Regions from separate parts of the Homo sapiens genome. Here regions 1 and 3 are each linked to region 2. The links come from fine-mapping of genetic effects on gene expression. A gene starts in region 2. Each other region holds a variant in brackets. All regions are shown on one strand. Distances are from middle to middle.

What was found.
Region 1: its variant is fine-mapped to the expression of MED14OS in sigmoid colon (GTEx, PIP 0.99).
Region 3: its variant is fine-mapped to the expression of MED14OS in whole blood (TOPMed, PIP above 0.99).

Annotation. Positions count from the first base shown.
Region 1 is chrX:41,034,169-41,037,018 of GRCh38, forward strand. No RefSeq gene overlaps it. Among named protein-coding and RNA genes, the nearest start is that of USP9X, 50 kb to the right of the region's middle. The variant T/C (reference allele first, on the strand shown) is at 1,430.
Region 2 is chrX:40,734,481-40,737,312 of GRCh38, forward strand. MED14OS (MED14 opposite strand) reads left to right here and starts at 1,210. Exons shown (of 2, transcript NR_169211.1): 1 at 1,210-1,310. MED14 (mediator complex subunit 14) reads right to left here and starts at 1,062. Exons shown (of 31, transcript NM_004229.4): 1 at 718-1,062. The coding sequence starts at 932. RefSeq lists enhancers at 432-1,353, 1,354-2,274 and silencers at 670-1,049, 1,310-1,399.
Region 3 is chrX:40,674,956-40,677,455 of GRCh38, forward strand. MED14 (mediator complex subunit 14) reads right to left here. Exons shown (of 31, transcript NM_004229.4): 22 at 266-406. Among named protein-coding and RNA genes, the nearest start is that of CXorf38, 29 kb to the left of the region's middle. RefSeq lists a silencer at 1,151-1,302. The variant A/G (reference allele first, on the strand shown) is at 1,054.

The DNA of each region.
Region 1 (2,850 bases), 300 kb after region 2:
ATTTAATGCAAAGCTACAATTTCATTGGCAACGGTTCTGTTAAAATGTTCCTCGGTACCTTTTCTGCATTTTTCACAGTGGCACCTTTATGCATTTGAAAAATTTGGACTAAGAAATGCAAATAAATCAGCAACTGTCCTTACCCTTAAAATTATGTGTCTTGCCAGGTACTTACTCTATCTATTACATGATTAAAAACAGTAACCTATAATTCCTTTCCCTAAAAATAAGTGTCAAAGTTATGGTGCTATCACATAGGCAGAGCAAAAATCTTTAAACTTACTAAAATTTGCCGGACATGGTGGCTCACACCTATAATCCCAGCACTCTGGGAGGCTGAGAAAGGAGGATCATTTGAGGCCAGCAGTTCCAGAACAGCCTGGGCAAAAGAGTAAGACCCCATCTCTACAAAAAATAAAATAAATAAGCTAGGCATGGGGGTATGTGCCTGTAGTCCGAACTACTCAAGAGGCTTTGGTGGGAGGATCACTTCCGCCCGGGAGTTCTGGGCTACAGTGAGCTATGATCATGCCACTGCACTCCAGCCTTAGGCAACAGAGTGAGACCCTGTTTGTTTAAAAAAAAAAAAAAAAAGAAAGAAAAGGCCAGGTGCAGTAGCCCACGCCTGTATTCCCAGCACCTTGGGAGGCCAAGGCAGGCGGATCTTGAGGTAAGGAGTTTGAGACCAGCCTGGCCAATGTGGTGAAACCCCATCTCTACTAAAATTACAAAAATTAGCTGGGCATGGTAGTGCATGCCTGTAGTCCCAGCTACTTGGGAAGCTGAGGCAGAAGAATCACTTGAACCCAGGAGGCGAAGGTTGCAGTGAGCCGAGATTGTGCCACTGCACTCCAGCCTGGGCAACAGAGCAAGACTCTGTCTCAAAACAAAACAAAAGTTATCGACTGGATAAAGAAAATGTGGCGCATATACACCATGGAATACTATGCAGCCATAAAAAAGGATGAGTTCATATCCTTTGCAGGGACATGGATGAAGCTAGAAACCATCATTTTCAGCAAAGTAACACTAGAACAGAAAACCAACCACCACATGTTCTCACTCATAACTGGGAGTTGAACAATGAGAACACATGGACACAGGGAGGGGAACATCACACACCGGGGCTGTCAGGGGTGGGGGACAGAGGGAGGGATAGCATTAGGAGAAATACTTAATGTAGATGACAGGTTGATGGGTGCAGCAAACCACCATGGCACATGTATACCTATGTAACAAACCTGCACATTCTGCACATGTACCCCAGAACTTAAAGTATAATTAAAAAAAACAAAATAAAGAAAGAAAAAAAAAGTATTGCTAAATTTTGCTAACATATTGACTAAAGGAGTCATCCATGCAGATAACGTACATCAAAAAGTATAATTATCTTGTATGTTTTAAGACAATCCTTTATTAGTATATAATA[T/C]ATTTTATAATATGTAATTCCATCTGACTTCCTCATACTTGCAGCTAAGAAATGGCCAATTATTAATCCATCTCTGCCACAAGGCTTTATCTTTACCTTGCCAACAAAGGCTTCAGAATCCTTTAGGCTAAAAAGCTAGCAAGTTTAAAAAGCTTTGAGAAATGTTCTTGACACACCCGTGAACACCTGTGAGCTCTAGGTAGGCTCTCTGTGTACATACAAGCTCTGTTCCATTCCAACAACCTGGACAGTAGTAACACATGTAAAAGTGTGCTCTTTGGTGAAATGGAGATTCTGAATTATTCATGGTAGTTTCACCAATAAAATGATCTAATGTGATACTGATTGTTTGTGTTCATATTTTCATTATACTGTATAATCTGGTCTAGAAATGCTTCAAACGTTAGACCTAAATGAAACTACAAAACAAACAAATCAATTTATTACTGGATAGGTCATTGATTAGGTAATTTAGAACATTTACAGAATTTTATCTTATGAAATTGCACCAAGGTCACCAAGCTGCAAAATAAAACTTGTGGGCCAATACAGTAGGCAGAATTCTAGGAGTTCAGGAATCTGCATTAAGTCCCACATATACAGAATAAATTCTATGTAGCTGGGCAAAGAACGATTTCCTTTTTTTTTGTTTTGAGATGGAGTCTTGCTCTGTCGCCCAGGCTGGGGTACAGTGGCACGATCTCTGCTCACTGCAATCTCTGCCTCCCGGGTTCAAGTGATTCTCCTGCCTCAGCCTCCCGAGTAGCTGAGATCACAGGTGTCCACCACCATGCCTGGCTAGTTTTTTGTTTTTTTTTTTTTGAGACAGAGTTTCGCTCTTATTGCCCAGGCTGGAGTGCACTGGCACAATCTCGGCTCACTGCAACCTCTGCTTCCCAGGTTCAAGCGATTCTCCTGCCTCAGCCTCCTGAGTAGCTGGGACCATAGGCATGCACCACCATGCCCTGCTAATTTTGTATTTTTAGTAGAGATGGGTTTTCTCCACATTGGTCAGGCTGGTCTCGAACTCCTGACCTCAGGTGATTCGCCTGCCTTGACCTCCCAAAGTGCTGGAATTATAGGCATGAGCCATCGCGCCCGTCCAATTTTTTGTATTTTTAGTAGAGACAGGGTTTCACCATGTTGGCCAGGCTGGTCTCAAACTCCTGACCACAGGCGATCTGCCCACCTTGGCCTCCCACAGTGCTGGGATTACAGGTGTGAGCCATTGCGCCTGGCCGCAAAGAACGATTTCTACAGAAATAGCTACCAGGAAGTTGTATTCAAACAATTTCCAGAGTTCACACAGGACCAGCGATCTTCCAAGTTTCTACCAAGCTGAGTAAAGAAACTTTGTTGAATAAATTGGGAACTCAGTAGAGACCCCAGAGGCATCACACCTTAGGGGTGTGGCTAACCAA
Region 2 (2,832 bases):
ACTTTTTCTGAACCTGGGTTATAAGATGTACAACAGAGTCCCAAAATGTTACGGTGCCTTTTCTTCACACACTGAAATTCGTTAGTATATTCTGATCCTATTCTGAAGGGATTAACAACTTAATCATGCCCCAAGGCATTTCATGGGTAACTAGGTGATTTATAAACCCCCTTCATACTCCAAGAAATAACAGACTACTTACAAAAAAATTTTACTCACACTAACTTCATTAAGACCTCAAACACTCAAAAGTTCCAGAAAAAAAGTACTTTGAATTCAAATTTGTATTTTATACACAACGTATGTAGCTCCTGCATTAACTTAGAAGCAATAACAGCTTACATTTAAAACGTATCGTCAAGAGGCTGTAATACAAATTTCCCATCTATAGAGTTTTTTCTAAAAGCTCGAATATTATGTATTCCAGCCAAGAAATCAAGAGAGTTCTGTTGGGAACTCGGACAAAAATTTCACACAATTTTCAGTGGAAGTGTAACAACACGCAAAATTAACAAGTCTCTGTTGCATCGTTGCCAGGAAGACCCCAGATACAAAGCTTCTTCTCCACCTCTGCTGAACCCCAGGAGTTCAAAAATTCTAGACTAAGCAGTCCAGCGGAGAACACAGCAGCCTCTCGGGGAGAGGGAGGTGCAAACGTCTCAGCCGGTTGGGCGGGAAGGGGGGCTGGGGAACAGGCAGGGGTTTCGGGGCACTTACAGGTCCGTCAACACCATAAGCTCCGAGTAGGCCCGGTGCAGCAGAAATTCAATGAGGGTGCTCAGCCGGTAGCCCGGGCTAGCCGCAGCTGCAGCGGCCGCCGCCACGGCGGCTCCCGGGGGAGGAGGGGCTGGGGCTGACGGGGGTCCGCCGCTGCCCCCGCCGCCGCCTCCGGGCGGGACCAGCTGGTGGTTCTCCAGCTGCACTGGGGCCATGGCGGCGCAGGACCGGGCTTGGCGCAACGGCACACGATGCGGTCCTCGAGCCTCCCGGGCGCTCGGTCACCGCGCCGAAACGGGAGCGGGCAGAGTCGCCACCGCCTACCGCCGGGCCGCCTCAGAACAGGAAGCCGTGCGCCGACCGCGGAAGCCCGCCCCCATGTAGCGAGAAGTCCGCCGACCCCAGGGACAGGAGCGAGGGGCGGGGGGAGGCGGGGATGGGGGGGAAGCAGGGCGGCCCCGCAGAGGGGAAGCTGCGCCTCCGCAAACGCTCAGAAGCAGCTTCGCCAGACAGCCGCAACGTACATGTTGACTGCCCGAGGCGGAAGTCGATCGGCAGAGCGGAAGGGGGACCTGCAGAGGACCTTCCGACAGGTCTGTGTCTGTTCTCTCAGCTGTCTAGCACCGCAGCGCTGGGGGGCGCGTGGGAGTGAGGCGGTACCTGTGAGCGCGCGGGAGAGCGGAAAAGGGAGCCGCGCGCCGCCGGAAACCAGGGTGAGGGCTGAGCCGGAGTCGTCACCGGGAACGTCAGCAGTTGCCCCGCCCTTACCCTCGCCGCTCTCCCTCCCGCCTCCGCCCCCTGGCGTTGTAAAGGCGACAATTTGCCCAGAGAAATCCACCATCGCTTCCTAAGTGGGGCACAAACACAGCCAGGGGAGGCCTCCTCTAAATGTTCGTGAATTCTGGTTCTGGAATCGCGAAGAAATGGGAGCGGCCGCGCGCTTGTGATTCTCAGGCCTTTGCTCCTCCCATACACGTCCACGGCGCGTTACGTGGGAGAACGTTTTCGCCCCTTTTTTTTTTTTTCCAAACTGTGGGAAAAGGTGCTAGAAAATATGATTGCGGGTAGAGACAGGGCCGCTGGCAGAGTAACTCAATTTTAATAGAGTCGGGTGTATGCTGAGGTCGTCACCATCCCCCAAATCCTGTCAGTCCCACACAAAAACGGCCCTTAAATCCCCTGCCACGGGCTCTCATATAGTTTTTGTCCTTGCTCTTGCAGTCACCGCTCTATTCTGAAGGGCTTTTCAGTTCATCCATGCCTACCGACACTCCCGTCCCCCCCATCAAAGTCCACGTTTAATTTTTTGTACCTGCTTTAAAACAGCGATTCTCAACCTTGGCTGCACTTTGCAATTATCTGAGGAGCTGTTTTTTAAAAAAATACTTAGATATATGGGTTCCACCCCTGTAGATTCAGATTTAATTGGTCTGGCTTGAGGTCTGGGCTTGGGGAATTTTTGAACTTTCCTAAGGTGATTCTAACATGCCCTAACGTAGAGATTCACTATTAGAAGCATTCGTTGCTGCGACCCCTTTCAAACATCTTTTTGCAGTTTCATCTCCTCTTGGTGTAAGAGATGTTCATGATGTTCCCTAAGGTTAGAATATTCTTACTGTCATCACTTGGGTAATTCTTTATCATTGTTGAAAGCGGTTCATCTGCTTCTGAAGGTGTAAGCTCACTTGTTCCCTCCCTTGGTGGTCCTAAAGCACATTGAAACAGAATATCATTGTGCTAGTTATTAAAATGCATTGGGATTATTTATACCCCTTACAGATACAGTTGCTGGAAGGCAGCTACCTTATTTTTAAATATTATTTTTATTTTTAATTGATAGTATATACTTATGGCATACAATGTGATGTTTTGAAACATGTAACCATTGTGGAATGAGCAAATCAGGCTATTAACATCTATCAAATGATATACATACTTACTTCTTTTGGTGAGAACATTTAAAATCCACTTTTAGCAACTTTGGAAGATACAAAAGGTTATTGCTAATTGTAGTCACATTGCTGTGCAATAGATCACCAGAACTTATTCCGCCTATCTAACTGAAACTTTGTACCCTTTGACTAATATTTCCCCTTTCTCCACCCACTGTCCTAC
Region 3 (2,500 bases), 60 kb before region 2:
CTGCGGATGGTATTTCCATCTCTGGAATCATATAACATCATTTTAAGTGTGTGAATGACCTGAGATTAATGCTGTTTCCAACACTATTCATTTCTTGTCACTGGAAGTCTCCTCGCCTCCTTCTGTAACTCTTTATTTCATAAGTATTTCCTGGGCATCTCAGGCCCACCAAGGACCTCCTTGTCTTTCAATGAAGTCTTGACACCTATAGAACCTGTGAAGTTACAGAAATGTGATACCACTTGGAATTCTGGCTAGATATTACCTGTTGCTGGGGTGGTGGCTGGAGCTGCGATATTAAAGAATCCATCATATCTCCTCCTATAGGAGAAGGGGGATTATCGTCCTCATTTACAGACCTTCTTCGAGCATCCTGATTGCTGTCAACAAACATATTCAGGAACGTCTACGGATATAAACAGGTAAAATTTAGATTATTTTACCTAACATTATTAGTAAAATATTTTAAATTATTTAGAATATTTAAACAGAAACACAGTATGTTGATCCTTGAAGATCGTTACTAGGACAACCTAGAAGAAATATTGTTAATTTTGAAGCGGGAAACTGAGGAAAACAGTTAACAAAAACAGCATCTAAAAAAAGTCATATTGACTAAGAAATATTGTGTGAGCAAAAAGTTGAAGAAAGAAGTACATCCTGGCACCTCTTACCATCAGATCATAATATTTTCTTATTAACTTCTAATCCAGAAATGGGGGTAAAAAATGAAAAGCATATTGGCCATAACTTCAATGACTTGGAAAATTTCCCAGCTAGTGAGCCATCTCACTTTTTAAACTAGAAAATATGAAAGGAAAACTGAGTAAGAAACGATCCAATTTTTTCCTTTTTTATATTATATAATTTAATCTTGAACCATTAAGAGTGGGACAGCCTTGTTTTACATATTGTCAAAACTGAGCAAAGCTATCAGAGTTTGTGTTTCAAGCACAGATTCTCTTTAACACTCCTCACATCCCCAGTATTCGAATATACACATATTTGAATCATAAGCTTATCAGAATCACTAGAGAGCTATTAATAGTCCAT[A/G]GTGGGCTGAGCATGGTGGCTCATGCCTATAATCGCAGCACTTTGGGAGGCCAAGATGGGAGGATCCCTTGCGAGACCAACCTGGGCAATAATGGCAAAACCTCATCTCTACAAAAAATAGAAAAATCAGCCAGGCATGGTGGTGCACACCTGTGGATCCAGCTACTAGGGAGGCTAAGATGGGAGGACTGCTTGAGCCCGGGAAGTTGAGGCTGCAGTGAGCCGTGATCCCACCACTGCGCTCCAGCCTGGGCGACAGAGTGAGACCCTGTCTCAAAAAAGAAGTCTACAGTCTACTTTTAATTAAAGATGATGGGCTCACAACACACATTGCATTCTTTCCCCACTAAACTACTGGAAAGAATTTTTTGAAGCAATAAGTAACAAAGACAAAAAGAATAGGAGAAGAGAAGAAACAGCAATACATCCGGGAGGCTGCAAAGCAGATGGCTGAGTAGCAACTAGAACCATCCAATGTGAGAAAGTTGTATCCTAAGTAAGCTGTGGGAAAAGCCAAGAAGCAAGCTATTTCCATCCAGATCCCTGAGATACTTTGGAACTGGCAGTATCAGGCACTGATATGGTTTGGCTCTGTGTCCCCACCCGAATCTCATCTTGAATTGTAATCGAATTGTAATCCCCGTGTTGAGAGAGGGACCGATTGATTGGATTATGGGGACAGTTCCCCCCATGCTGTTGTGATAGTGAGTTCTCACCAGATCTGATGGTTTTATAAGTAGCAGTTTCCCCTGCTCTCACGCTTCTCCCCTGCAGCCATGTAAGGCGTGCTTGCTTCCCCTTTACCTTCCACCACGATTGTAAATTTCCTGAGGCCTCCTAGCCGTTCTTTCTGTTAAGCTCGTGGAACTGTGAGTCAATTAAACCTCTTTCCTTTATAAATTACCCAGTCTTGGGTAGTATCTTTACAGCAATGTGAAAACAGACTAATATGGGTACCTTTGGAAGTGGGGATAAAAGTGGGACTAATAACAGAAGGACTAAGTGAAAGTCTAAGAGACACTTAGACCCTCCCAGATCCTCTGCTATTCTCACTGAGCTCGGTTATCTCTTCCACCATGGAGGAGGATCTCTGACTTGAGGGATGCCAAAGACCAACTCAGAGAAGGACTACTATATAAAAAATGGGGATCAAAGTCTACATAAATTTGAGAATACTCGTTTTTTCATTTGACTTTCCCAATATTGAAAGCAAGATGCATACCATCTATGCAGAAGATTTGGATACTCCTGTCTTGGTACTCACACCAGCCCAACAAAAAGACCTAAAGCTACTGATATCGGGAGTTTCCCAAAGAAATGGCCCAAGGAGATCATCCTGCAATGAAGACCACAGTCAATAAGTCTTACCTTTAAATAAGAGCAGAGAGTTAAGAATCGCTTAACATTTGAGGAAAGACACTAATATAAAAGAAATCAATACCACACC